Linked DNA regions of Homo sapiens. The protein of the gene in region 1 binds, or shares a complex with, the protein of each later gene. Each region holds a gene or a part of one and is shown in the gene's direction. Other genes may lie near its edges. The genes, in order: NDUFAF1, ACAD9, TMEM126B and COA1.

Region 1 (7,022 bases):
CAGCCTCTGCCTCCCAGGTTCAAGCGATTCTCCTGCCTCAGCCTCCCGAGTAGCTGGGATTACAGGTGCCCACCACCATGCCCAGCTAATTTTTTTTTTTTTTTAGTTGGAGTCACTCTGTCGCCCAGGCTGGAGTGCAATGGCACGATCTCGGCTCACTGCAACGTCTGCCTCCTGGGTTCAAGCGATTCTTATGCCTAGGCCTCCCAAGTAGCTGGGATTACAGGCATGGGCCACCACACCTGGCTAATTGTTTGTATTTTCTGTAGGGGTTTCACCATGTTGGTTAGGCTGGTCTTGAACTCCTGTCCTAGGTGATCCGCCTGCCCTGGCCTCCCGAAGTGTTGGGATTACAGGCATGAGCCACCGTGCCAGGCCAATTTTTGTATTTTTAATGGAGACGGGGTTTTACCATGTTGGGCAGGCTGGTCTCCAACTCCTGACGACAAGTCATTTGCCTGCCTAAGACTCCCAGAGTGCTGGGATTACAGGTGTGAGCCACTGTGGCGGGCTACAATTTTTGGTTTTTTTATTTTTTTTGAGATGGAATTTCACTTTTGTCACCCAGGCTGGAGTGCAGTGGTGCAATCTCGGCTCACTTGCAACCTCCGCCTCCTGGGTTCAAGTGATTCTCCTGCCTCAGCCTCCCCAGTAGCTGGGATTACAGGCGCTCTCCAACATGACCAACTAATTTCTGTATTTTTAGTAGAGATGGGGTTTTACCATTTTGGCCAGGCTGGTCTTGAACTCCTGACCTCAAGTGATCCGTCCACCTTGGACTCCCAAAGTGCTGGGATTACAGGTGTGATGCACGGCACCCGGCCAACATTTTTTAAAAAAATTAGCTGGGCATGGTGGTGTGCACCTGTAGTCTCAGCTACCTTGGAGGCTGAGGTGGGAGAATCATTTCAGTCCAGGGCCCAGGAGTTCAAGGCTACAATGAGTTATCGATCTTGCCACGGCGCTGCAGCCTGGGTGACAGAGCAAGAGACCCTGTCTCTTTTTTTTTTTTTTTCACATGGAATTTTGCTCTTGTCCAGGCTGGAGTGCAGTGGCGTGATCTCGGCTCACTGCAATCCCTGCCTCCTGGGTTCAAGTGATTCTCCTGCTTAAGGCTCCCTAGTAGCTGGGATTACAGGCGTCTGCCACCACGCCTGGATTATTTTTAGTAGAGATGGGGTTTCACCATGTTGTCAAGGCTGGTCTCGAACTCCTTACCTCAGGTGATCCATCCGCCTCGGCCTCCCAAAGTGTTGAGATTACAGGCGTGAGCTACCACACCTGGCCTGACCCAGTCTCTTATAAAAAGAAAAGAAAAAAAAAAGGCCGGGGACAGTGCATCATTCCTACAGCCCAGCACTTTGGGAAGCCGAGGGGAGAATCACTGGATCCTAGGAGTTCAAAACCATCATGGGCAACACAGGGAGATCTATTTCTTTTTCTTTCTTTCTGTTTTTTTTTTTTTTTTTTTTTGAGACAGAGTCTCGCTCTGTTGCCAGGCTGGAGTGCAGTGGCACGATCTTGGCTCACTGCAGCCTCCTCCTCCCAGGTTCAAGGAATTCTTTTGCCTCAGCCTCCTTAGTAGCTGGGACCACAAGTGCGCACCACCACACCCAGCTAAGTTTTGTATTTTTAGTAGAGACGGGGTTTCACCATGTTGGCCAGGATGGTCTCAATTTTTTTTTTTTTTTTTTTCCCGAGACAGAGTCTCGCTCTGTCGCCCAGGCTGGAGTGTAGTGGCGGGATCTCCGCTCACTGCAAGCTCTGCCTCCTGGGTTGACGCTATTCTCCTGCTTCAGCCTCCCCAGTAGCTGGGACTACAGGCGCCCGCCACCACACCCGGCTAATTTTTTGTATTTTTAGTAGAGACGGGGTTTCACCGTGTTAGCCAGGATGGTCTCGATTTCCTGACCTCGTGATCCACCCGCCTCGGCCTCCCCAAGTGCTGGGATTACAGGCGTCAGCCACCGCGCCCGGCCCAGTCTCTATCTCTTGACCTCGTGATCCACCCACCTCAGCCTCCCAAAGTGCTGGGACCGTGCCTGGCCAGGGAGATCCATTTCTACAAAAAATTTAAAAATTAGCTGGGCATGGTGGTGTGTGCTTGTAATCCCAGCTACTTGGGTGGCTGAGATGGGAGGATCATTTGAGCCCAGAAAGTAGAGGCTACAGTGAGCTGTGATTGTGCCACTGTACCCAGCCTGGGCCACAGAGCAAGACCTTGTCTCAAATAATAATAATAATAATAGTAAACAAATAAGTTAACAAACTTCAAAATACCTGATTTCTGTTGAATTTGAAATTGTGATGCATTCATTGCTATGCTGATAATTCTTCAATGTCTCTTCTGTTATAGGTAGAATTGGGCTATTTGCTGAAGCTTCTTGGTGGCCCTTGCTAGCCCAGGAAGAAACTTACATTTTGATTTTTTTGTACCATGGCTTTGGTTCACAAATTGCTGCGTGGTACTTATTTTCTCAGAAAATTCTCTAAGCCAACTTCTGCCTTGTATCCATTTTTGGGTATTCGCTTTGCAGAGTATTCCAGTAGTCTTCAGAAACCAGTGGCTTCTCCTGGCAAAGCCTCCTCACAGAGGAAGACTGAAGGGGATTTGCAAGGAGATCACCAGAAAGAAGTTGCTTTGGATATAACTTCTTCTGAGGAGAAGCCTGATGTTAGTTTCGATAAAGCAATTAGAGATGAAGCAATATACCATTTTAGGCTTTTGAAGGATGAAATTGTGGATCATTGGAGAGGACCGGAAGGCCACCCTCTGCATGAGGTCTTGCTGGAACAAGCCAAGGTTGTCTGGCAATTCCGGGGGAAAGAAGATTTGGATAAGTGGACAGTGACTTCTGATAAGACGATTGGAGGCAGAAGTGAAGTGTTTTTGAAAATGGGCAAGAATAACCAAAGTGCACTGCTATATGGAACTCTGAGCTCTGAGGCGCCTCAGGACGGGGAGTCTACCCGAAGTGGGTACTGTGCAATGATATCCAGGATTCCAAGGGTAGGTGAGGCCCAGGAGCCATCGTTTTCTAGTAAACAGGGGTGAACTTCATTGTAGCATAAACTATAGAAGATAGCTTTTGTTTCTGTAAATGAAAACACCTGGCATGTTATATTTGGCACCTCACCTGTGTCTGGGGATAAGTAACTATTGGCACAAGTGTGAAGTGGAAGCACAAGGGGGAAGTGGTTTCTGAGGAGGAGGAGTTAACTTGTTTCTGCGCATTGCTTTGGGCCAGGAACGAGCATTGTTATGTTTCAGGAATCCTGAGAGGTTAGACATTTGAAAGATTTTTGGAGAGATTTTCATCTCCTCTAAAAAAGACCACAACCTCTGTAATGACCAGGGGTTTTGTAGAGTGGATGTAGGGTTAGCCTGTGGCTTTCTTTTTTTTTTTTTGAAACGGAGTCTTGCTCTGTCGCCCAGGCTAGAGTGCAGTGGCGTGATCTCGGCTCACTGCAACTTCCGCCCTCCAGGTTCAAGCGATTCTCCTGCCTCAGCCTCCTGAGTAGCTGGGACTACTGGTGCACACCACCACGCCCAGCTAATTTTTGTATTTTTAGTAGAGACAGGGTTTCACCATGTTGGCCAGGCTGGTCTTGAACTCCTGACCTCAGGTGATCCACCCCACCCTTGGCCTCCCAGAGTGCTGGACATGGTGGTGCATGCCTGTAATTCCAGGTACTTGGGAGGCTGAGGCAGGAGAATTGCTTGAACTCTGGAGGCAGAGGTTGCAGTGAGCTGAGATCGTGCCATTGCACTCCAGTCTGGGCAACAAGAGCGAAACTTTGTCTCAAAAAAAAAAAAAAAAAAAAAAGGCCGGGCGCAGTGGCTCATGCCTGTAATCCCCACACTTTGGGTGGCCAAGGTGGGCGGATCACCAGGTCAGGAGATCGAGACCATCCTGGCTAACACGGTGAAACCCCGTCTCTACTAAAAATACAAAAAAATTAGCCGGGTGTGGTTTTGGGCGCCTATAGTACCAGCTATTCGGGAGGCTGAGGCAGGAGAATGGTGTGAACCCAGGAGGCAGAGCTTGCAGTGAGCTGAGATTGCACCACTGCACTCCAGCCTGGGTGACAGAGCAAGACTCCGTCTCAAAAAAAAAAAAAGAAAAGAAAAGAAAAGAAAAGAAAAAGTCATTGCTCCATACGACCAGGTAAAGGAAATACATTCATTTCCATTCATTGAACACAGGTGAGTGCCTACCCCATGTAAACACTGTCCTGGGCCAGTTGTGTGTTGAACATTACCTTAGAAACATATAACTATGTCAGTATTTTGTGCTAAAATAATAATCACTGGGTTTATGTGCCTTCTTATGGGGCAGAAAGTCAGAAAAATGGTTAGTGCATCCTGTTGATGATGCTGACTTGGTGATGACTCACATTTTGCTAATAATGGAGAATGAGGTACAATGAACTTTACTTTCAATATCTTAGGGTGCTTTTGAGAGGAAGATGTCTTACGATTGGTCCCAGTTCAATACTCTGTATCTCCGTGTACGTGGGGATGGTCGGCCTTGGATGGTGAATATCAAGGAGGACACAGATTTCTTCCAGAGGACGAATCAGATGTATAGTTACTTCATGTTCACCCGCGGGGGACCCTACTGGCAGGAGGTCAAGGTAACAGCATAAATCTTCATTGTTTATAAAAATGAGGTCTTGGCTGGGTGAGGTGGCTCACGCCTATAATCCCAGCAATTTGGGAGGCCGAGGTGGGTGGATCACCTGAGGTCAGGAGTTCGAGACCAGGTTGGCCAACATGGTGAAACCTAGTCTCTGATCGTGCCATTGTACTCCAGCCTGGGCAACAGAGTGAGATGAGACTCTGTCTCAAAAAAAAAAAAAAAAAAAAAAAAAAGTCTTGGAGATGATTGTTACATTGTAGTTTCTTTTTTGTTACTAATCTTTCTTGGAAGGTGGGGGTGGGTGGGTAGAAGAAAGGTTAAGAGACATAAATGAATTTTGTTTCATTAATATAAATGTTAACATACTAACTAGTGAATATTTTTGATATGGATGTGGCCAGGTCCATGCTAAGTCACAGGCACATCTCTGCTCTGTGTCCAAATAGATGGGGTTTGTTTGTTTTTTAGAAGTTTCTGCCATTTCATGTCTTCCAGGCAACTCTGCTAAAGTTGGTGTCCTAGGCCTGCGTGGTGGCTCACACCTGTAATCCCAGCACTTTGGGAGGCCAAGGCGGACGGATCACTTGAGGTTGGGAGTTCGACACCAGCCTGACCAACATGGAGAAACCCTGTTGTCTCTACTAAAAAAAATACAAAATTAGCTGGGCGTGGTGGCGCATGCCTGTAATCCCAGCTACTCGGGAGGCTAAGGCAGGATAATTGCTTGAACCCAGGAGGCGGAGGTTTCGGTGAGCCGAGATCGTGTCATTGCACTCCAGCCTGGGCAACAAGAGCCAAACTTTGTCTCAAAAAAAAAAAAAAAAAAAAAAAAAAGTAGTGTCCTAGGCCAGGCGTGGTGGCTCATGTCTGTAATCCCAGCACTTTGGGAGGCCAAGGTGGGTAAATCACCTGAGATCAGGAGTTTGAGACCAGCCTGGCTAACATGGCAAAACCCCATCTCTACTAAAAATACAAGAATTAGAGGCCAGGCGCGGTGGCTCATGCCTGTAATCCCAGCACTTTGGGAGGCCGAGGTGGGCAGATCACGAGGTCAAGAGATCGAGACCATCCTGGCCAACATGGTGAAACTCTGTCTCTACTAAAAATAAAAAAATTAGTTGGGTGTGGTGGCGTCGTCCCAGCTACTCAGAAGGCTGAGGCAGGAGAATCGCTTGAACCTGGGAGGCAGAGGTGGCAGTGAGCCGAGATGGGCCACTGCTCTCCAGCCTGGCGACAGAGTGAGACTCCATCTCAAAAAAAAAAAGGCCGGCCGCGGTGGCTTACGCCTGTAATCCCAGCACTTTGGGAGGCTGAGGCGGGTGGATCACGAGGTCAGGAGATGATGGAGACCATTCTGGCTAACACAGTGAAACCCCGTCTCTACTAAAAAAATACAAAAAAAATTAGCCGGGCTTGGTGGCAGGTGCCTGTAGTCCCAGCTACTCAGGAGGCTGAGGCAGGAGAATGGCGTGAACCCGGGAGGCAGAGCTTGCAGATCGTGCCACTGCACTCCAGGCTGGGCGGGAGACTTCGTCTCAAAAAAAAAAAAAAAAAAAAAAAAATTAGCCGGGCATGGTGGTGTGTGCCTGTAATCCCAGCTACTAGGGGGGCTGAGGCAGGAGGATTGCTTGAACTTGGGAGGTGGAGGTTGCAGTAAGCTGAGACCGTGCCACTGCACTCCAGCCTGGGCAACAGAGCAAGACTCCGTCTCAAAAAAAAAAAAAAAAAAAAACTCAACAAGAAAGTCCCCATTTTGCTCATGTCATATACTTGAGGGTCATCCTGAATTCTTCTCCTTTGCCCCACATCCAGTCTATTAGCGAGTCCTGTCACCTCTGCTTCCAAAATACACTCAGCAGCTGACCATTTCTAGCCATCTCTTCTACTCCCACCCTGGTCCAGGTGTTTGGATTATTGCAGCAGCTTCATTATTGATTTCCCTGTTTGTCTTCTTGCCCCACTAAAATCCTGGCTCCACAGCAGCCAGAGTTATCTTTCTGAAGCATAGTTCAGATGACATCATTTACATGCTTGTAAGCATGTAAATGTACCTCCTAAGCATGTAAGCTGTATTAGTCTGTTCTCGTGCTGCTGCTATGAAGAAATACCTGAGACTAGGTAATTAATAAAGGAAAGAGGTTTAATTGACTCACAGTTCTGCAGGGCTGGGGAGGCCTTAGGTAACTTATAAAATCATGGCAGAAGGGGAAGTAAACACATCCTCCTTCACATGGTGGCAGGAAAGAGAATGAGAGCCGAATGAAGGGGTAATCTCCTTATAAAACCATCAGATCTTGTGAGAACTCACTGTCACTAGAACAGTATGGGGGAAACCACACCCATGGTTCAGTTAACTTCACCTGGTCCCTCCCTTGACAC
Region 2 (7,022 bases), on another chromosome or scaffold:
AGGGGCTGTTGGTTTTGTTGAGTAGCTGACTTTTCCTTCTTTCCAAAATCTTGCAAAGAATCAACTCAGCAACTGTTCTTGCCATTCCTCTTATCTTGACCTTATTTCTCTGTCCCAGTGAGACTTGCAAGTGAGATACCACGCTTGACAGCACTTATTAAATAAATTTTTGTGGTTTACAACACACCTTGACATACAATATAGTAATAACGTTCCGGCTTCAAAGCACCTTTCAGAATATATAGCGTGGGTGGTACTGCTCCCACTTACACATTAGGAGCTGAGGTTCAGTGAGGCTGTGTGATCTGCTGGATGGAGCAGGGCTGCGGCAGCACTCGGGACTCTGATGATAAGTCCATCACCTGGACCATCCTCCATCCTGCTTCACTTTGCATGAGAACCTGGGAACAGTCATCCTTCCTGGGGTGCCCAGAACTCATCCTCACAGGACCTCAGATGAGCCCATTGCAAGCACCCATTTCCATGTTTAAACCTAAGCCCAAGTTGTTTTCACTGCCGCTTTTTTACGTGATGTATTGAAGCAGAGGTCGGCTAAATCCAGCCTCCTGCCTGTTTTTTATAAATAAGTTTTGTTTGTTTGTTTTTGAGACAGGGTCTTGCTGCGTCACCCAGGCTGGAGTGCAGTGGCTCAATCTCATCTCACTGCAACCTCCGCCTTCAAGCGATTCTTCTGCCTCAGCCTCCCGAGTAGCTGGGACTACAGGCATGCCCCACCACACCCAGCTAATTTTTGTATTTTTAGTAGAGACGGGGTTTCACCATGTTGGCCAGATCTCAATCTCTTGACCTCGTGAACCACCTGCCTCAGCCTCATGTTCTATTAATAGCAGCAGAGTTGAGGAGGTGAGACAGACATCCTGCAGCTTGGAAAGCTGAATATGTTATCTGACCCTTCATTTTAAAAGTTTGCTGACCTCTTACAAGTACTAAAACCTCCATTTTCAGGCCCTCAAAAGCATTCATATTTATTCCCAGTATTCTCCCTTGACCACATCTTTCTGCATCTGCAGTGGGAGCGATGCAGCCTCAATCCGGAGCAGAGCCACACTAAGTGAAGACAAGAAGCACTACATCCTCAATGGCTCCAAGGTAGGGTTCCTTCCCCATGGCCACATTAGGGTCTCAGTCACAACCTTCACTGCCACTGAGTGAGCACTCTCCACACACCAGGGATTGTACCTGCTGCTGTAGCACCGACTACCTTCTTGAGCTGCTTTTATGTGTTTGTTTTTAATTTTTTTTAGTTTTTTTTATTTGCGATGGAGTCTCTGTCACCCAGGCTGGAGTGCAGTGGTGTAATCTCAGCTCACTGAAACTTCTGCCTCCCAGGTTTCCAATGATTCTCCTGCCTTAGCCTCCTGGGTAGCTGGGATTAGAGGTGCGTGTCACCACTCCTGGCTAATTTTTGTATTTTCAGTAGAGATGGAGTTTCACCATGTTGTCCAGTCAGGTCTTGAACTCCTGACCTCAAGTGATCTGCCCACCTCGGCCTCCCAAAGTGCTGAGTTTACAGGCAATGAGCCACTGTGCCCGGCTTGTAAACCCAAAAAATCTTTAAATTTTTTGTTACACAAAGTTTCAGACATATTCTGTGTGCCTGGCTGGCCCTAACTCCGGCAGTCACCTGCTTATGGCCACTGTGCCTCTTCCAGCAGCATCGCCACCTCCAGATCGCATGGTAACAATCTCAGCATGCCTCTCTAAAAGACAGGAGTTTTTTTTGTTTGTTTTTGTTTTTTAATAAACACAAAGCCGTAATACCCTTATCACATTTTAAAAATTGATAATTTCTCTTTTCTTTTGAGACAGGGTCCCGCTCTGTCACCCAGGCTGGAGTGCAGTGGCACGATCTTGGCTCACTGCAGCCTCAACTTCCTGGGCTCAGGTGATTCTCCTACCTCAACCTCCCAAGCAGCTGGGAGTACAGGCACACAGCTAACTCTTTGTATTTTTTTTTTGGTAGAGATGGGTTTTCACCGTGTTGCCCAGGTTGGTCTCAAACTCCGGGGCTCAAGTGGTCTGCCCACCTCGGCCTCCCAAAGTGCTGGGATTACAGGCGTGAGCCACTGTGCCCAGCTAATAATTTCTTACTTCTATCAGCATTCAAATATCCCTGATTGCCTCATACCTTTTTTTGGTTTAACTGTTTGCTTGAATTAAGATCCACACAAGTCCCATCTGTTGCTGTTTGTTAAGGAGTCTGTTTCTGCCTCTGTCTCCCTCTGTTTCCTTTCCTCCTCCTCACCACCCTCCCGCCTTTTTTCATTTCTTTGTAGAATTAACAAATAAATGTTGTGTGTATTTACATCTACAACATGATGTTTTTATATATGTATACCTTAAGAAATGATTAAACCCTTTCTTTCTTGAAGAAATGCAGTTGTCTGGCGGTGGAGCCTGAGCTGTCTGACAACTTTGGGTGTTCTTTCCCCCGCCCCCGCCTCCACCTGGCCATCCATGTCCCTTGGGAAAATCCTTGCTCTGGGGAAAGTGGGCTGAGCCCTGTCCTCTATTCACTCATGCTTGGTTGGCTTCTGCAGAGCCAAGGACCCTGCATGTCTGGCCTGAGGTCTGACTGGCAGCTGGAGCTTGATGGACAAAGACAGAGCTGAGGTGGGTCACATAGGGGTTTGGTTTTCTCCAAAGTCCATCTTTCTGTCCTCAGGTCTGGATTACTAATGGAGGACTGGCCAATATTTTTACTGTGTTTGCAAAGACTGAGGTCGTTGATTCTGATGGATCAGTGAAAGACAAAATCACAGCATTCATAGTAGAAAGAGACTTTGGTGGAGTCACTAATGGGAAACCCGAAGATAAATTAGGCATTCGGGGCTCCAACAGTAAGTAGCTCCTGTGCGCGCGTGCGCGTGTGTGTGTGTAAGGGGGAGACTGGCCTTTGACGGTGTGTGTGTGTGTGTGTGTGTGTGTGTGTGTGTGTGTGTAAGGGGGAGACTGGCCCTTGACTCTGTCCAAATAGCAAGATAAAATGAGATTTAAACACTTTCAGTTTTTGTTAAGCATTTTAAAAAGATCAAATTAAGAATGCCACTTGGGCTTTGTCTTTGTTCCTGCAGCTGAGTGCTGCTCACTTGAAGGCCTGCTGGTCATCCCCTGCTGTAGCTGCCCTAGCAGACACACCACCTTAGAGCTCAGCTTACAGTCCCCAGCCTTTAGTTGTCTCAGTCTGCAGTGCCTGGCAGCCTGCTTCAGGCTGTGAGTTGGGTTCAGGTCCATCTGGGTTCAGGTCCATCTGGAGGCTTGTTCTTAGAGCAGATCATAAGCACCTAAGGGGCCAAGCCAAGCCATATAAGTACTATTTTTGCCGTGGGAGACATAGTCTCCCTCTGTCACCCAGCCTGGAATGCAGTGCTGTGATCTCAGCTCACTGCAACCTCTGCCTCCTGGGTTCGAGTGATTCTCCTGTCTCAGCCTCCCAAGTAATTGGGACTACAGGCGTGCACCACCACACCTGGCTAATTTTTGTATTTTTTGTAGAGATGGGGTTTCAACATGTTGCCCAGACTTGTCTTGAACTCCTGAGCTCAGGCAGTCTACCTGCCTCAGCCTCCCAAAGTGCTAGGATTACACGTGTGAGTTACCATACCTGGCCACTTTTTTTTGGTTTGTTTTTTTTGAGACGGAGTCTCGCTCTGTCGCCCAGGCTGGAGTGCAGTGGCACTATCTTGGCTCACTGCAAGCTCCGCCTCCCGGGTTCACGCCATTCTCCTGCCTCAGCCTCCCGAATAGCTGGGACTACAGCTGCCTGCCACCACGTCCGGCTAATTTTTTCTATTTTTTAGTGGAGATGGGGTTTCACCATGTTAGCCAGGATGGCCTCGATCTCCTGACCTCGTGATCCGCTCACCTCGGCCTCCCAAAGTGCGTGAGCCACCGCACCCGGCCTTTTTTTTTTTTTTTTTAAATAGAGATGAGGTCTTGCTATGTTGTCCTGGCTGGTCTCGAACTCCTGGGTTCAAGTGATCTTCCTGCCTCTGCCTCCCAAAATGCTGGGATTATAGGCATGAGCCACCATACCCGACTGACCCTAAAACACATTTAAGGTCTCTGTTCATGTTGGGTCAGCTCTTTGTATTGGCCACAGGAAGTCACATGGTCATACCTAGCAGGCAGGGAAAGGGAGGGAGGTCCATCCCTCCTCACAGTGGGAGAGTGCTACAGTTAGATTGCAGGGGTGTGATTGTGTTAGAGTTAAGAATTGAGACCAGTGGTCCCAGTCTACCCTAAGGCTTCAGGAAATGCTGTTCTTTCCCTCACTTTGCTTGTTCTGGCTCTTTATATGCCTGGTTCTTTTCATTCTTAAACTTCTGCTAAATGTCACCTTAGAAAAGTCTGACATAGTCCTTAATAAAAATATTATTATCCACCCCCTTGCCAACCTCCATTTCTCTTTATCGTGATGCCCTATTTATTTCATCCATAGCACTGATCACAATATTACATTGTTTTGTTTATAGCTTTTGTCTCCCAAATCAAAGTATGAGCCTCCACAAAGATAGGAACTTTGTCTTTCTATACTGTCCTACCAAACATTGGATGGATGGATGGATGGATGGATGGATGAATTGCCTGCTTGCAGGTCAGATGCAGAGTGGTTTGCATTGTCAGATGATATCTTAAATTTCATGTGTTTCAGCTTGTGAAGTCCATTTTGAAAACACCAAGATACCTGTGGAAAACATCCTTGGAGAGGTCGGAGATGGGTTTAAGGTGAGTTGCCAGCCACAGCCCCTTGTACCAGGTAGTGTCATGAGTGCAGTTTGTCGCCCCCAGCTTTTGCCCTATCCCTGCTCGTAGCAGAGTAGCCTGTGCATGGCAGGTGACTTTGCATGGTTATCTGTTGGGAAATTGGCAAAATGGACACTGGAAAATTGGCTGGCTCCTAGAAGAAGTGTATGGTAAGGATTAGGAATTTCCCTTCACCTCTGAGGCCCTATTCGCCTCGAGCGGAGGCTAAGATTCCCTTCTGCAGTGGGTATGAGAAAGCAGCCTGTGGGCTCTGGTGAATCTCAAGCTCTGTGTACCACAACCCTGGTCTGCATCGCTGCCCTACTCTTTTCTTTTTGGACTAAGACTTATTTTTATCAAGAGATGATTCATATGACAAAGGACTCACCATTTTAAAATATTATTTCAGTGGTTTTTAGTATATTCACTATGTTGTTCAAATATCTCACACAGAACATTTCCTCACCCCAAAAAGAAATGTTGTACCATCCAGTATGACCCTTACCCCATCCCTTGGCTGCTACTCTTTTACTTTATGTCCCTATGGATTTGCCTGTTTGGAACATTTCATAAAAATGCAGTCATATACAAGATCCAGTCTTTGGTGACAGGCTTCTCTCACATTGCGTGATGTTTTCAAGGTTCATCTCTCTCATAGCATGAATGAGTAATTCATTCCTTTTATGGCTGAATTCTCTTCTGTTGAGTGGAGATACCACATTTTGTTCATCCATTCACCAGCTGATGGACATTGGGGTTGTTACCGCTTTTGGCTGCTATCAGTAATGCTACTTATGAACATTCATGTCAAGTTTTAATGTGGAAATAACGTTTTCAGGTATTTTGATTTATGCCTAAAAGTAGAATTTCTGTTTGGCCCAAGTTGGTCTTGAACTCCTGGGCTCAAGCGATCCTCTTGCCTTGGCCTTCCAAAATGCTGGTACTACAGGTGGGAGCCACCATGCCCAGCTCTGGCATGGTCCTTTGGAATAACGTTCAGTGGTCTTGTGTGTGGGGATGTTGGTAGAGCTGCAACAGTGACTGAACCACCTTGTTCTGAGGCATTAGGATGGTGCTTTCTCCCAGCTTGAGGGAAGGCAAGCTGATCCACCTGGCCTGGTTTCGTTGCGGCCTCCTCCCTCTGCCTCCTTCAGGGCCCCTGGGCTCTCCCTGTTCTCCCTGCAGGTGGCCATGAACATCCTCAACAGCGGCCGGTTCAGCATGGGCAGCGTCGTGGCTGGGCTGCTCAAGAGATTGATTGGTAGGTAAGTTAGGGACAAGGCCCTTTGTGCCCCACCCCCTGCTGCCCCGGCTCCAACCCTGGAGGCTCTGCCATTCCCCCGGCCCCTTCCAGGCCAGTGCTGAACCAGGCTACCAGCCTGAGCTCAGTCCCTGGGCTTTTGTGGAGACCAGAGGGTCTCCTCAGCCTGCCCCTGAGGTTTGTTGTCTTCCGCATTCCTCTGTTTCACCTCCACCCGGGTGATGCTGACTGGGGGACAGGCTTTCTGTCTGGGGTGGGGATGGGGATTGGGGAATGGGCTGTCTGTCTGGAGTGAGAGGTTGCCACTGACCAGTAGGAGCAGAGCTGCTTGGTGAGCACACACCAAGAACCAGGCTTCCAGGATACACGGCCTCTGGTTCCCAAGGTCCGTGCCTCCTGGGTGACTCTGCATGGTGGGTGGGGAGTAGGATCGGGTTTGGAACCCAGGTCCCTGGGCCCCTGGATCTTACCTTTGTTCTATTCTGTCAGAATACCCCAAACCTCCATTTTCCTTTGCCAGTGAACTTAGAACAGCCCTGTAACCATCCTGGTTGTGGTGGAAGCATTTGCGGGGAAATGGGGGTACCCGGGGCAGCACACCCCTAAGTGCTTTATGAAGCTCCTCTTTGGTGCCAGGCTCTGGGCCTGTTTTGGCTTCCCTCCATTTTAGAGATGAGAAGACAGAGACTCAGAGAGGGCAAGCGATTTGTTCCAGACTGTGCTCCTGGACCCAAAATGAAAGCTGTCAGGCTCCAGGCTCAGGGCTCTTCTTACTCAGGCACAAGGCCTCTGGGGAGCTCCTCTGCTGGGGCTCTGAGTGGGGCTCGGCCCTCTACACCTCCTGAGTGCACCACACCTGGGAGAGCCTGTGGAGGACATGGCTATGGCGGGGCGGGGGTGCTTCTGCCTGGGAGAGGCGCCATGTCACTCTTGGGCCCTTAGAGCTCAGCACTTTGTCACAGCCACACGCCTGGAAGCCCCAGCCTGAGTATTC
Region 3 (7,663 bases), on another chromosome or scaffold:
ATACAACTTATCCTGAATTGGTCCTAAATTTTCACAAATTAAAATATGTCCAAGATTGTCCCAAGGGCTCACCTGGGAGCAAATAAAGTTACTACTATAGATAAGAAAATCTTGAATGAAAAGCAACTGCTGAGGAAAAAAAACCTTCTATGAGGAAACAGAAGAGTCTTCTGTTGATAAAACTGAGATCTGTAAAAATGCGAAGAGACTAGAGTGAGAGAAGTAGAAAGTAATGTCATAAAGCAAACGAGCAGTTAATATGGGGTTTGAGGCACAGTAGTTTCAGCTTATCCAAGGGCAGTCCAGAATGGCACCTAGAAATGGGCTTAGTGAGATGTCACACCCATTCCCAATTCCCACCATGGTTGCATGGTATCAGTAAAAGAATCTCCTCTCTCTTTGACAAAAATATACTAACTAAATACCAAATGAAAATCCATCTTATGAAAATTTCATACTTTAATGAGAATATGTTCAACAATGAATAAACACTTGGCTCAGTGAGGATAGTTATTGTTTAGAATCACATTAAGTCTAGCTTTTTCGTCATGTCTACCACATGAAACAATGAAGAGAGAAAAAGACTCAAGGTGACAGAGGACAGTGATCCCTGCAGAATAAATCTAGGTTAAACTTAAAAATACTGTTCTTATATTATATAAACAGTAGAGATAGTAAGCATAGCCAATGAAAAATACAATATACACATAACTTGTTTGGCTAGTTGTCTATAATATTCAAGAATATGTATCATAATACTAGCAGTTTTAAGAGATTAAAAGCAAGATACATTGTTTCTCTAGATCAGTTTATAAGGAAAATATACAACATATACTCTGGTATCATAGAAATATAAACTGGTTTTTCTAATAAGAACTTGTTGATTCCTTTAAAAATTCAATCCATTAGTCAATTCATTATTGAAGAAGGAAAGAAGAAAGGGAAGGAGGGAGGCAAAGGAAGAGAGGAAGAAGGAAAGAAAGGAAATTCTTCTAAAGTATTATAATTTCACCAATGTATCAGCAATTTCTGTAACAGTTCTTTAAAGGGAAGAACTTTTAAGAAACTCGGTTTATGGGGTTTAGAAACATTAAGTTCTAAACTTTCTAACTAAACCTGCTTAGTTAAGTTATACCTAGAATATCAATTGACCTTCCTCCTCTTCCTTCCCACATACCTTTTTATCTCTTTCTCTGTCTCTCCTCCTTCCCATTCTCTCTTCCTTTCACTCTTTTCCTCTCTGTCTCTCTCTCTCTCACACACACACGTAATGTGTTTAATTCCATTATTAGTTCAAAATAAGGTAATCCAAAAGAAACTCTCTAGAGAAATGGTAGAAAGAATAAAAACACACATCAACTTAAATATGTCAAAGAGCCATATCATTTATTGGCTACATTCCCAAAACCATTCTTGTTCTAGATAAACCAATTGTGTCTGGTCTGGACAAGTGTGGCTCCAAAATCTCAGGCAGTTTACTTCTGTCAGTGGTATTATTAGAAACAGCAGGGGGAGGAAACAATCCCAATCTTAAATCCCAGTGTGCAAATATCACAGTTCTAGGTGTTCCAAAAGTTTTATATATCATTGTCCATCTCTACAAATATCAGCTTGGATAAGGCATCTCAGTGATTATAAGTTTCCTCAACATCCCTAACAAATCCACAGGTAGAAGAATTAAACACCATGCAGAGATAAGTTCCACTTTAACCTGCAATTCACCCAGAGCTTTAGTTTCAGATTGTAGCAACTCACATAACTGGACAACATTTGGATCTATATTAGTCCAGTATAGCAGAGTTCAAGGCTGTTCATATAAGTTTTGATTCAAAACTCTTGAGAAACTCTTTACAGTTGATCTCACCTTCCATATAATGTCAAAACAAAACAAAACAAAAACAGTCCCAAACTAGGATCCTTTGGAACAAAGTTAACCTGGGGTGCATCTAAGCTAAACTGAATCCCCAAGTTCAGAATATAATCAACTATGCTTCAGGAATTCACTAGATCTTGATCAATTCCAATAATAAAAGTTGTTGAGGAGGGAGGAAAAAAACAGGTGTTTGCCCCATTTGGGGAACTTGACAATCATGTTATTGGATAATGCATATATCTGGAAAAGCACAATAGTCACGAAAGTTGTGCTTTATCACAAAAGTGAAGATTTACACTAGAATAAATCCAAATAATAAGTCTATTTTTTAACCAAAAGATAAATTATAAAGCTGTAATTTTGTTCAGTGCAAATGAAATTACTTTGCTACCTTTCACAATTCTGTAATTAGTTTGATAAATATTAAACCCATGAGGAAGAGCTCCACTGCACAAGTTTCTTTTTTAAAGACTGCTTAAAAGTAACCTTCAACAAGCTAAGAAAACAAGCTAAAGGAGACTCCAAATCTGCGGTACTGAATCTATTCTTATTACCAACGGTGATATAAACAACCTGATTTATGAAATCATAAATATCTATCAATAAATACTATAGTCTTGCTTCCTTTTACTTTAGTAAAATAATATTACTGAATTATGTACCACTGAAACTATATTACAATAAATATTTCCCCCAAACTGAAGCAAAACTTTACTCTCAAATGGAATATAATTTAAATTACAAGTACCAGAACCAACAAAAGGGAGAAATATTATATAGCAACCTTATGGCCCACCTGTCTTCTTGACTGGCATTCTTGGGTCTTTCCACTGCCACAGGAGTCAATATCTCTTTTCAGGTCTCAGTTTGATCCAGCTGGATTGAGGCCAAGAGCCAGGTAACTGTTGCAAACCACTTCAGTGTTCAGTTTTGAAATCCAGGCTGAGTCTTCTATGTCAGACAAAGAAAATAATGATGTATTTTTTCCACAACTAAACTTTTTACACCGCCCACAGAGTTTACAGCAACGTAATTTTTTAGTTTTTCAAGTTTTTCAATTTTCAGAAAATATTTAGACTGTTTTTACAAACTGGGAAAATTATTGTAAACATGAAGAACGTTACTGAAATTCCTCTTCAGGCAGCAACATTTTTGGAAGTTCAATGACTAACTCAATTAAGGCACAAACCAAATTTAGACAGGTCTCATTACTTTATACATGGTCAAATTCAAAGATGATGATAAAGATACTCAAATCTGTAGAGAAAAATGTAACCCCACCTCCCCAAAAATACTTTTAAAAATCTCTTTGACTCCAGTCTCTAAAAAGATAGGTGAGTTTGAACAGTTTTCTGTGGCAGAACACACATTGAAAGGCCCCCTTATATTTACTGATCAGAAGTTCCGGATCTCACCCCCTCAGTAACTCAGAATCCAGCTTGCTGTCCCTTTCATTTTTTTCTTCTGTGCTCTCCAAGCCCCCAGGCTTGATCCTTAATGCCCCTCTGATTCTGATCCTCCCATGTATTAACCGAGAGGATTGAAAAAAAAGGAAAGCAATCCCTTGGCATGGAGACATTAAAGTGACAGTGCTACTCAATGGGCACTTGATGCAGGATGAGTTGGCGAAGCAGATTTCTTCACACTGGAGTCATTCACATCATGCCATCTCTTCGCATTCAAGCAGCTCCCTATCCGGCGAGGAAAAACACTGAGACTTCGAGAGAAGCCAAACCTTCCCCCAAAGGTGTTTTCAGAGACGCCGTAGTAGTATTAGACATGTAAGCATAAGCTATGTAAACGGTCCGCGATTTCCTAAATGAGAAAGTGCAGCTGCTTGGCTTTCACATCCACCTTTTCTCTCAATCTCTCTTCAAACTACCCACCTTCCTTTTGCAGAAAAGACAAGACATTTCTTTGCCACCGCTGGCCACCCCTGCCCAAGCCCCGTTCTTTTAGGGAAGAGCACTGAAATGTCCTGCACCCTCCACGCGATGAAGTGTTTCCTCAGGCAGGAGCAACAGCAGCACTAGAAATTATATAACTCTCGAATTTGGCTTCTGTAAGACATGGAGACTGGAGGGTCGGGGGTTGCCGGTCTGGGAGATACTGCTGGGCATTTAACGTGCACAAAACAGCGCCAGGCCTTGCAGTGCCCCCCACCCCGAGACACGGCTGACAAGTGGGTCTTCTCGCGGGGGTAGTGGGCAAATTTCTCTCCGGTCTCTTTCCAAGCGGGGCTAAAGGATGCAAATTGAGGGGACTACAGACTGGGGAGAGGAGTCAGACGGCTGAGAGGAGAGGAGGCTAGTCGGGGCTGCTCTGACGGCGCTGGGCGGCTGGTCCGGGGTTTGGAGGAGGAGGTGCCCGAGAAACAGAGCTTTAACACCACACAGGCCAGGGCAAAGGGGCGAGTTCCCTCAAGGACTGAAAGGGGCAGGCAGCTAGTTCCCAGCTGCCCTGAGGAGAGGCAGGAGCGCAGTAACATTACAACATTCGGGCCGCCCCATCTTTCCCGCAGGACGCGAAGAGATCAGGGAGCTAAGCTGATAAATAGTCAGGGAAGGAAATACTCGGCTGGCGAGGGGGGCAGGCCCACAGGCGCCTGGACCTCCTCTAAGCGAATAAGTGGCCGTAATTTCTAGACGCCGCGCCCAATCACAGTCAGGATGGAGGGCGCGGCTTTTGACTGAGTGGGGGCGGGCCCGGGCTGCAATCGAGAGGCGTTGAGCCGTAAATCAGCACCACTTCCCGCCCAGGGCGTTCTGGGTCCCCGCCCACCGGCAAGTCACATGAGCCACCAAAATGGTGGTGTTCGGGTATGAGGCTGGGACTAAGCCAAGGGATTCAGGTGTGGTGCCGGTGGGAACTGAGGAAGCGCCCAAGGTAGGCGGAAATCCGAAGTGGTATGGGGGGTGATTTCTGCACCTTCAAAGTGTTGGCAGACTCTTCTAAGATGATACCTTTAAAGGAGATTTGAAAAGTTAAAACAGCTCCCAAGTCCATGCAAGGAGCAGTCGATTAAGTCTCCAGTTGCTGTGGAAAGAGGCGGAGAGAACGTAGATGACCTAAATTCTAGTCCTCATTATCTGCAGTTTGTTTTCTCTTGTCTCCAGGCCTTTGCACAGGCTTTTTCTTCAACTTGGAGTATTTCCCTGCTTCTATCCGTCCCAACTCCCCTGCCAAACTGTTCTCTTTCGGTTATTGATTTAAATGTCACTTCTTCCGGGAAGCCTTCCCACGCTTCCTCTGGCTAGATTGTTTGCTTTTTCTTAGGTTGTTGGGTTTTTCGTTTATGTCACTCTCTCATTCTGTGTTTAAATTGCCAGCTTTTTTGTTCTGAACTCCCACTGCGTTGTGGATTCCTGAGGATGGGATGACTGTATCTTGATTACCCGGAGGTCTGGCATATACCACGTGCTCCCTAAATTATGAGCGAATGTTGAATAAAATTCTAAAGGTGAAATTTATTATTAGGTGAAAAATTTATTATTAGGTAAAATAATACACATGAAAGCACTACAAAACCGTTAGATGATTTGCAAACTATAAACCTACATAAATGCACTCTTACTGGTATAAGCGTGGTGACTAGTTGAGTGGCCTTAAGGGGGAAGGGGTGTAATGAAAGCACTGGAGTCTTTGACAGTGCCTTGCAAAGCTTAAGCACTCAAATATTTCCTGTGTTCTTTCCAGTATTTCAGTATTTGCTGTCCTGTAATCATAATCCTGGGTGTCTGTTTTCCCTATAGAGACTTTAGGGTGTAGACTAGGTAGGAGATTAGTAGAAGATATTGCCTGGAAGTTTGTTTTGTTTTTTGTTTTTGGTGGAAGGTGGAGGATTTCAATGAATTGGATGAGAGCAAAACAAAAATTTATCTATGGTTTATGGTTACTCATGTTATTGACGTCTGCCAAGACAGCAGATGTCTTAGTACAATAGATGGGTTAGGTATAGAATCTCCCTTAGATGTTACTATCCCTTATACTTTCCATTTGGGTGTCAGGGAGAGGGAAAAGATGTAAGTCTAGTCACTGAAAAATTGTAATTTGTAAAATATTTTACCTTTTTTTCCCCCTGCCCTCTCCAGAAATGTTACAGAAAAAGATTGAGTACATTTCTGCCATGATGCAGAGAAAGAAACTGGTCCATTATTACTCATTGTGTAACACCATAAGAAGGTTCAAAGGAGCTCATACCTTCTGTATGTTGATGCCAGGAACTGTGTATAATGAACTGGCCTTCTATAGTTAGGATTGGTACATACCGCTCATTCAGCAAATGAGTATTACAGTGATATTCAACATGTGTCCATTGACTACAGCATCAGAAGCACTAAGTGCTATTAAAATGCAGATTCTAGGCCTCATCCTACTCCTGCTGAATCCAGGTATCTCAGGAGGGAATTCATGAGACTGCATTTCAAATAAATACCCCATGTGATTCTTGTGCATGCTGAAGGTTGAGAACCACTGATTTATTAAGTATCTTGTGTGTTCATTATGCTTTATCCCCTCTAATCCTCTTGTCTAGGACTCCTTAAATTTGAGATTTAGTATTTCCCTTTAATATAAACATTAAAATTGAGATTAGTGTAAATTTGTAAAGAGACTATTTAGCTAATCTGGAGGAAAAAGAGTAAAAAGCACTGAATTTAGCAGCAATAGACCTTCCACTTGGCTGCTGTAGTAGGTAAACATTTGCAACCACGTGTTTGGATTTAACAAATGTTATTAAGACTTTTCACAGAGACTCTAGAGTCTTGCCCAGAGCAAAACATTCAGAAACGATCCTCTCTGAGAGTGCAGGGTTTGTTTTTTTGTTGTTGTTGTTTTGTTTTGTTTTTTAACCTGTCTAGTTTCTGTTAAGATGCTACTGGCCAGGTCTTCATGGTCCCTTGACATTGGCAGCTGTCTGTTCATCACACTTGGGACACAAGAACCTTCCGACCAAGGAGCCCAGTGCCATGGGTCTCTGGGGCCGGGCACGGTGGCTCACGCCTTTAATCCCAGCACTTTGGGAGGCTGAGGCAGGTGGATCACCTGAGGTCAGGAGTTCGAGACCAGCCTGGCTATCATAGTGCAATCCTGCCTCTACTAAAAATACAAAAATTAGCCGGGTGTGGTGGCAGGTATGGGTCTCTGCTATACCACATGACCATTTCTAGCAAAGGCTCTGCTTCCACCACAGGTGGTAATAGGGAACTGGATATATAATTTATGTACTCCAAAGTAGTAGCCACAATCCACTGCCTGTTCCCTTCCTGGAGCAGTGTCCCTCTTTCTGATTTTTCTCTCTCACTATTCTCCAAGGCAATCCCTGCTCTCTCCTACCTCTCTAGGAAATGAAACACGATTTCCAAAATGAACTTAATCTTTCATGAGAAACTGAGGATAGAGATGTCAATAAGCAGCCACTGTTTCCACCTCCCCACCTGAAGAGCTAGGAGGACAACTACAAAGAGCCTGACTGCCTTCTCGGAATGAGGAGAGAGGAAAACAGCAACAGTATCAGTATGTTAGCCTTCTACACTAAATCTCAAGCAAGCCAACCTTTCAGACCTTCAGTTTGCTCATATGTATAGAAATAATCATTATACTACCAATTTCTCAAGTTAGTGTGTAAATCAGAAAGCCAATGTCTGTATTGTAGGATGTTTAGCAAGAAAATAAAAAATAATAACAAAAAGCCAATGTCTAACAGATAATAAGAGCTCAGTAAATGTTGATTGAATTACTAACAAAGTATGTGAAAGCAGACGACACAGTACCTGGCACACTACTAAACTG
Region 4 (7,658 bases), on another chromosome or scaffold:
TCCTTTACCATTACTTCTTTGACCCATGAGTCAAAATGTATACTTAATTTCAAAAGAAGTGTGTTACTTAATTTCAAAATATTTGTGTTTTCCAGATATCTGTTACTAATTTATAATTATGGTAAGACAAAAAACTTTATACAATTTCAATGTATTTAAGTTTATCAATGTTTATGAACTGGCATAAAAATATTCTACACACTTAAAAGGTGCATTTAGCTATTTATGGAGTGTTCTATAAATATTAAACAGGTCAAGTTGGTTAATAGTGTTGCTCCAGTTTTTTATGCACTTACTGATTTTTTGGTCTAGTTTTTCTATTAATTGCTGAGAGATGAATGTTAAAATCTCCACTACAATTTTCAATTTTTCTTTTCTTTTTTCTTCTTTTTTTTAGATGGAGTCTCACTCTGTCACCCAGGCTGGAGTGCAGTGCTGCAATCTCGGCTCACTGCAACCTCTACCTCCTGGGTTCAAGCAATTCTCCTGCCTCAGCCTCCTGAGTAGCTGGGATTACAGGTGCACGCCATCATGCCAGGCCGATTTTTGTATTTTTAGAAGAGACAGGGTTTCACCCTGTTGGTCAGGCTGGTCTTGAACTCCTGACCTCGCGATCCGTCCACCTTGGCCTCTCAAAGTGCTGGGACTACAGGTGTGAACCACCGCACCCAGCCTACAATTTCCAATTTTTTGAATTGTCCTGTCAGTCTTTGCTTCACATTTATTGAAGCTCTGCTATTAGTTCCAAACAATTTTTTTTATTTTGAGACGGAGTCTCGCTCTGTTGCCCAGGCTGGAGTGCAGTGGCACGATCTCGGCTCACTGCAACCTCTGCCTCCCAGGTTCAAGCGATTCTACTGCCTCAGCCTCCTGAGTAGATGGGATTACAGATGCGCACCACGACGCCTGGCCAATTTTTGTATTTTTAGTAGAGATGGGGTTTCACTATGTTGGTCACACTGGTCTCGAACTCCTGACCTCGTGATCCGCCTGCCTTAGCCTCCCACAGTGCTGGGATTACAGGCGTGAGCCACTGCGCCTGGCCAGATTCATACAAATTTAAGACTGTTATATCTTCTTGATGATCTAACCCAATTATTATAAAATGTCCTTTATTTTTTGCAATCAGCATATTTGAACAGCTACAATTTCCTATAACAAAATTATAGGAGGTGCACATTATTTCCTATAACAAACATGTAGAGCATGTGCTTGGAGTACATGTAAAAGCAAACACAAAAGCAAAAAACAAAAAACATGTAGAGCAAGCATTAACTTTACATTAAACAGGACATATTGTAAGAGATAAATAACTTTTTCAGGGTTAAAAATCAGGATATCACAGGTGAATTTCTTGTAAACAAACTAGGCAGGACTGAATTTCATGCTGGTAGTAAGATAAGCAAGAAAGGACATTCATACCAACCTAGCTAATGTTAATTTTCTCAGTGTCTTTGAGGTAAATACTGTCTAACTTTTACTTATTTTTATGACAGGACATTATGGCACGCTCAATGCTTTGTTTTCTCAAAGCTCTTATGCCAAAATTTTCTTCTTTCTCTCAATAGGTGGATAGTTCCTTAACATGATAAAAGATGTCTACTTCAGTCCTTAAAACCAGCATCATGCTTAATGGGAAAATTCTAAAGATATCTCATTAAAGATAGGAATAAGACATAAAAGTCTACTGTCATTATTATTATTAAATATTTTACTGGAGATACTAGCCAAAACAATTAGATATGAGAAAGTAGAGGTATAAAACTTGGAAAGAAGTAGGTAAAACTATTTCAATGATAAGATTGCAATCTTAGAAATTCTACCAGAATGAACTCCAAACAATAAAGCAACTTAGTAAGGCAGTGGATCACAATATTAATATGCAGGAAATGATACTTTCATGTATACATACAACTACGATGTGTAGTAACCTCATTCAGATTTGATAGTTATAGGATCCTGCTGCTCTTGAGTGAATCTCAAAGCAGCCATTTAACCACTTAACAGTAGCCCTCATACAGCATTATAGTCAGCCCCTCCTCTCTTCACCTCCTACCCCTTCCCTGGCTCCTTAGTTTAAAAGTATCAAAACAGACCCTTTCTTTAAATATATAGAAAAAGAGAGGTAGAATGTGTATTTTGATGGGTAATTTTGGCTATAAGAAACAGAATCCCTGACTTAAGGTGAGTTAATAATAACTAAAATTTATTAAGCACTTAAAATACTTACAATATGACCAGCACTATTTTAACCCATTTAATCTTTATGGCATCTCTATCAGAAAACAGTAAGGATCCCAGCACTCTGGGAGGCCAAGGTGGGTGGATCACTGAGGTCAGGAGTTCAAGAGAAGCCTGGCCAACATGGTGAAACCCCTTCTCTACTAAAAATACAAAAATTAGCCAGGCGTGGCAGTGCATGCCTGTAGTTACAGCTACTTGGGAGGCTGAAGCAGGAGAATTGCTTGAACCCGGGAGGCAGAGGTTGCAGTGAGCTGAGATCATGCCACTGCATTCCTGCCTGGGCGACAGAGTGAGACTCAGTCTCAGAAAAACAGAAAACAAAAACAATAAGGAAACTTATTAGACATTCCTACAAGGCATTCAGATACAGGGTGAGCTCCAGGTTTGGAATGATGTCACCAAGGACATTGTTTTATAACTTGTTCAGTTGTCCTCAGCATTGGTCCATCAGTTTTATTCCTTGTGATGGGCAAGATGGCTACTAATGACAGTGTGGGATAGATGTTTCGACGTCAAGAGGACAGTATATCAGAAACTTTCTCCTGAGCATGAAATAGAGGTCCTTTCCTTCAGTCAGATTGCGCCAACCTGGGTCATATACTCGTTCCTTGATTAGCAACTATTTCCAAAAAAATTCTGTGTGAAGACTGGTTTAATCAGTATCATTTTGATTCTGGGAACAGGGCAGCTATCTGAATAAAATAAGGATTTTGGTACAAAGGAGTTAGAGGAAAATGAATATTGGATAGGTAACATTATTCACTATAGAGTTTTGTTTTTAATGTAAAATTTAGACGACAAAAAAATTCTGTGTGATGACTGGTTTAATCAGTATCATTTTGATTCTGGGAACAGGGCAGCTATCTGAATAAAATAAGGATTTTGGTACAAAGGAGTTAGAGGAAAATGAATATTGGATAGGTAACATTATTCACTATAGAGTTTTGTTTTTAATGTAAAATTTAGACGAAAACTTTAGCAGATTTAAGTCCAGTGATAGAAATGTTAAGTTCTGAGTTTTCAAGCAAATGGTCAGAAAAGCCTATTTAATGTTTTATTACTTACAAAGTAAACATATTTCTCTTTCTGGTACAGAACGGGAGCTAATTGATCTCGGGTTCATTTTCATGAACGTTGTATGAAATGCACATATACCAAACCTCATAAGCTTTTTATTAGTTGATTTATTCTTTGAAATATTAAGCTTGGTGTAAGGTATTATAACCTCAATCTCTTTGAAAATGTAATAAGTCAATAATCAATGTTGCATCAATGAATATTACTCAGTGGATGCCTATTTTATTTCTTCTTTTTCTCTAAGAACCATTTAAATAGTCCTTATGGCCGAGCACTTCACAATCTGATTAGTTTCTATTAATTCTTTGGAAAAGAAACATTCTGGGAAGTCAGAATTCAGCGGTAGGTTGCTTTGATAATGTGCTCATTTAGCTAGTGGATTCCAGAGTGATAGAATGTATGTTTGGCAACCTAATTGTTGTGGAGGAAGAAAAGAACTTCTGTTAGAAGTTTTTAAAAAAGTTTAAAAATTGTTTTTACCTCATCAAAAGTTTGATGTCTTGTGAGTTTTATAGCATGCATAATATATTAATGCCATACATGACACATGTAAATATATATATATTTTTTCTGATAGGGATGTGTGAGCAAGAGTTTAAAGAAGAATGCCCCAGTCTAAAGTTAATTAGTCTTGGAGTGATGGCTTCGCAGAGGAAAGATACTGGATTTCAAGCTTGACATTAAGGTGATAATAGTGGTGACTATGGAATAATCAATATAAAAATAATAACAGCTAACAGTTACTGAGCGCCTACAAACTGCCAGACACTACTCTAAGTGCTTCACATCCTCATAACAAATTTATGAGGTAAATGCTATTATTATCCACCAGCCTTCTGAAATTTTCTTACCCCGTTACTCCCTGGTGTTAACTGGGTACTTAATTTGTCGAATAAAATAAAATTTAGTGCTGCCAAATTTGTCAGCTGAACGGGGCGGCAGGAATTTCAGTGCTAGAGTGGGGGGCCAGACGGCCCGGGGCTTCGTGTCCTTGGAGGCCAGCGGAAGCGCCGCATACCTGTGAGGAGCAACGTGAGCCGGTGGCTTATATTTCCTGGGCTAGTGCTACTGGACTGAATGCATTTGCAATAACCGGACGCAGAAAAAAAAAAAAAAAGCGGGGACCAGGGGAGGCGAAACCCTTCCCGGCGCGAGTCCGAGCGTCTGAGAAGCAGAAGCCACACGTCCCGGCGACCTAAGTTCTGGATCAGCCGGCCGGAGGACCCGTGTTAGCATTTACAATCCGAGGTGAGCTGAAGCCTCCGGTTGTCCCGGTTCGACGCTCTAGCCCTGCGAGCAGCCGACGCCGGAAGTCTCTACTGCTCCCCGCTGGCGCGCAGGACCGCGGGCATTTACCCGTGCTTTCCCAAGCCTGGAAGAACTCGTCATGCTCTTTGTAGCGTGGTGCTTCTGTTGCTCACAGGTTAGTCTCCCGCGGTATAAGAGTCTCCGTCTTCCCCCCAGCAAGAAGCGTTTGTTCCTGCAATTCGGGGGGCCGCCTTTGCGCGCGGGGTGCGCTGCTTCTTGGAGAGTTCCCTCACGGGTCACATCGCGGAGGTTCGCGCCGGCGCCGGGTCGCGGCCTCCCTGCGCAGCTTCTTTGGCACCTGGTAACCTTCAGTGGCTCCGTCCGCTCGGAGTTAGGAGGCTGTGTCGAGCTAACCTTGACCTTGTCCTGCAGTTTTTGCTGACCATCCCCAACAGCACACTGTAAAGAGTTAGGGTCCTCTCGAAGAGTTGGGACTGGGCACTTTTGTTGGTAGTGCTAAATTTCAACACCCTGAGGAGTACGCTGCCCAAATTATTGTAGGAAAGAATTACCTGGTTTAGTGGTTATAATACTTTTTGTCCCCACCACACTTGAATAACAGAAAAACCCTCCCAACAGGGGCTGACTGCAAAAGTGATTTTCTGTGTAGGGGACATTGGATGTATTTATGTATATATCAGTGCCTATCAGTCTGTATGTGTGTTTGGGGGTGGATGCTGTGTAATTTAAAAAAATCTATGGAGATTCTGATAATTTGATAACCTGTTTCTCCGGTCTTCCCCTGATTCCTCCCCATTCTCCCCGGAGGGCTATTGCTTTATTTCTGAGGTGGCTCACGTTTGGATAGAAGTAGCAACTCTCCGCTTACACCTGCACGTTTAAAACGCATATCAGATTGTGTTATTTCTGTCCTCAGAATCTTCCTGGCCTTCCCGTTGCTTTCAGGATAATACACATTTCTTAGCCTAACTTCAAGGGCCTACAGGGTCTTGATTCTGCTGAGTTTTTCAGTCTTTGCTACTTTCATGGAAAACACACCTGCAGGTACACTCATATTATGCTCCCACCATGCCAGTCTACGGTAATTTAATAACTTTAGATATGGCAAAGTTTTATATGGTTTACTCAAGTTTTAATTTTTGTTCTAGCATTTAGCCAAAATCGATTGAATTCATAATATTGCTAGGCACTGTTTTAAAAACGGGATAAAATGAAAACAAAACAAAACACAAAACAAAAGTCTTCAGTCCTTTAAAAAAATAAAACAGCTTCCTGACACATAGTTCACCTACCGTAGAGTTCACCATTTAAAACGTAGCGGTGCCTCACGCCTGTAATCCCAGCACTTTGGGAGGCCGAGGCGGGTGGATCACGAGGTCAGGAGATCAAGACCGTCCTGGCTAACACGGTGAAACCCCGTCTCCACTAAAAATACAAAAAATTAGCCGGGCGTGGTGGCGGGAGCCTGTAGTCCCAGCTACTTGGGAGGCTGAGGCAGGAGGATGGTGTGAACCCGGGAGGTGGAGCTTGCAGTGAGCCGAGATTGCGCCACTGCACTCCAGCCTGGGCGAGAGAGCTAGACTCCATCTCAAAAAAAAAAAAAAAGAAAGAAAACCTAAAAGTAATTAGTACATTAGTACATTCACAAAGTTGTACAACCATCATCATAAAATATGCTGTAATCTTCTTCACCTTCATTAGTTGGTTTAATTTTCTATTTCAGACAGACTCCAATAAGTTATTCTTGTATTCTTTTGTTCATGTTTAATATGCTGCATTCAGTTTGTGAGAGCCATATTGGAACAATTGAACATTTTCATCACTCCAAAAGGAAACCCTGTACTTATTCAGCAGGCTCACCTGACTTCCCCATCCCCACTCCCCATTCTAAGCCCTAAGCAACTATGAATTGACTGACTGTATATTTGACTATTCTGGATTATTCATGTGAGTGAAATCATACAGCATGTGGTCTTTTTCAACTGGCTTCTTTTACTTAACATTCATGTTCATCTGTGTTGTATTTAATAGCATGTGTCAGTACTTTTTTTTATTGCTGGTTAATCTTTTATGGGTATTACCACGATTTATTTTCCATTAGTTAGTGGACGTTTGGATTGTTTCCACCTTTTGGCCATTATGTGTAATGCTGCTGTGAACATTCACCTACAAGTTTTTGTGTGGACATCATGTTTTCATTTCTCTTGCGTATGTGCCTAGGAGTGAAATGGCTGGGTCATATGGTAGCTCTGTTTAACATTTTAAGAAATGGTCAGACTGTTTTCCAAAGCATCAGTGTGCATCTTTTTAACATTCGCACCAGTAGTGTATTAGGGTTTTGATTTCTCACTCCTTGCCAACACTTGTCATTATCTGTCTTTCTGATTCTAGCCATTCCAGTGGGTGTGAAGTGTGTGTCATTGTGTTTTCATTCTTTTTCGTTGACATGTAATAATTGTACATATTTAGGGACTACAGAGTGATATTTTGATAAATGTATACAATGTGTAGTGATCAAATCAGGTAATTAGTATGTCCACCACCTGAAACGTTCATCTTTTCTTTGTGTTGCGACCATTAAAAATCTCCTAACTTTTTGAAAATATTATGGTTTCAAATCGTATTTCCCTGATGGCTAATGATGTTGAGCATCTTTTCAAGTGCTTATTGCCCATTTATTTATCTTCTTTGGAGAAATGTGTACTCAGATCCTCTGCCCATTTTTAAATTAGGTTCTTTTTTGTAATTGAGTTGCAAGAGTTCTTTATATATTCTAGATACAAGTCATTTATCAGATATGTGATAGTCTTTTAGATTATGCTACCGTTCTTTTAAATGAAAAGCACATGAGATTAATTTTTTGTAGCCCTGGAGACCTCCTTATGGGTATGTGGCTGTGGTTTAGAGAGTGATGGTTTTCCAACAACTACGTGGGAGGCCAGGCCCAGGAAAAATGCTGTGAAAGAACCCGTGAGGAGCATTTTAAGACTTGAAAAATGAAGCAAGGAAAAACTTTATAATTTGCCATTCCGTATGGAGTTTTGTCTTTATTGATTTTTAGGAGTTCT

What was found.
Region 2: NDUFAF1 (region 1) and ACAD9 share a complex: the UniProt entries of both Homo sapiens proteins name them as parts of the mitochondrial complex.
Region 3: NDUFAF1 (region 1) and TMEM126B share a complex: the UniProt entries of both Homo sapiens proteins name them as parts of the mitochondrial complex.
Region 4: NDUFAF1 (region 1) and COA1 share a complex: the UniProt entries of both Homo sapiens proteins name them as parts of the mitochondrial complex.

What each region holds. Positions count from the first base shown.
Region 1 is NC_000015.10:41,392,475-41,399,496, reverse strand, and holds part of NDUFAF1 (complex I intermediate-associated protein 30, mitochondrial precursor), read left to right. Parts: intron 1-2,356; 5' UTR 2,357-2,437; coding exon 2,438-3,010; intron 3,011-4,452; coding exon 4,453-4,638; intron 4,639-5,138; exon of another isoform or gene 5,139-5,392; intron 5,393-7,022. UniProt on the Homo sapiens protein: As part of the MCIA complex, involved in the assembly of the mitochondrial complex I.
Region 2 is NC_000003.12:128,896,601-128,903,622, forward strand, and holds part of ACAD9 (complex I assembly factor ACAD9, mitochondrial), read left to right. Parts: intron 1-1,031; coding exon 1,032-1,110; intron 1,111-2,686; coding exon 2,687-2,861; intron 2,862-4,675; coding exon 4,676-4,749; intron 4,750-5,952; coding exon 5,953-6,028; exon of another isoform or gene 6,029-6,032; intron 6,033-7,022. UniProt on the Homo sapiens protein: As part of the MCIA complex, primarily participates in the assembly of the mitochondrial complex I and therefore plays a role in oxidative phosphorylation.
Region 3 is NC_000011.10:85,623,930-85,631,592, forward strand, and holds the start of TMEM126B (complex I assembly factor TMEM126B, mitochondrial), read left to right. Parts: upstream 1-4,663; 5' UTR 4,664-4,678; coding exon 4,679-4,759; intron 4,760-5,202; exon of another isoform or gene 5,203-5,312; coding exon of another isoform or gene 5,313-5,333; intron 5,334-7,215; exon of another isoform or gene 7,216-7,387; intron 7,388-7,663. Other genes in the region: DLG2 (disks large homolog 2), read right to left, coding at 2,670-2,688. UniProt on the Homo sapiens protein: As part of the MCIA complex, involved in the assembly of the mitochondrial complex I. Participates in constructing the membrane arm of complex I.
Region 4 is NC_000007.14:43,726,515-43,734,172, reverse strand, and holds the start of COA1 (cytochrome c oxidase assembly factor 1 homolog), read left to right. Parts: upstream 1-4,649; 5' UTR 4,650-4,744; exon of another isoform or gene 4,745-4,930; intron 4,931-7,658. UniProt on the Homo sapiens protein: Component of the MITRAC (mitochondrial translation regulation assembly intermediate of cytochrome c oxidase complex) complex, that regulates cytochrome c oxidase assembly.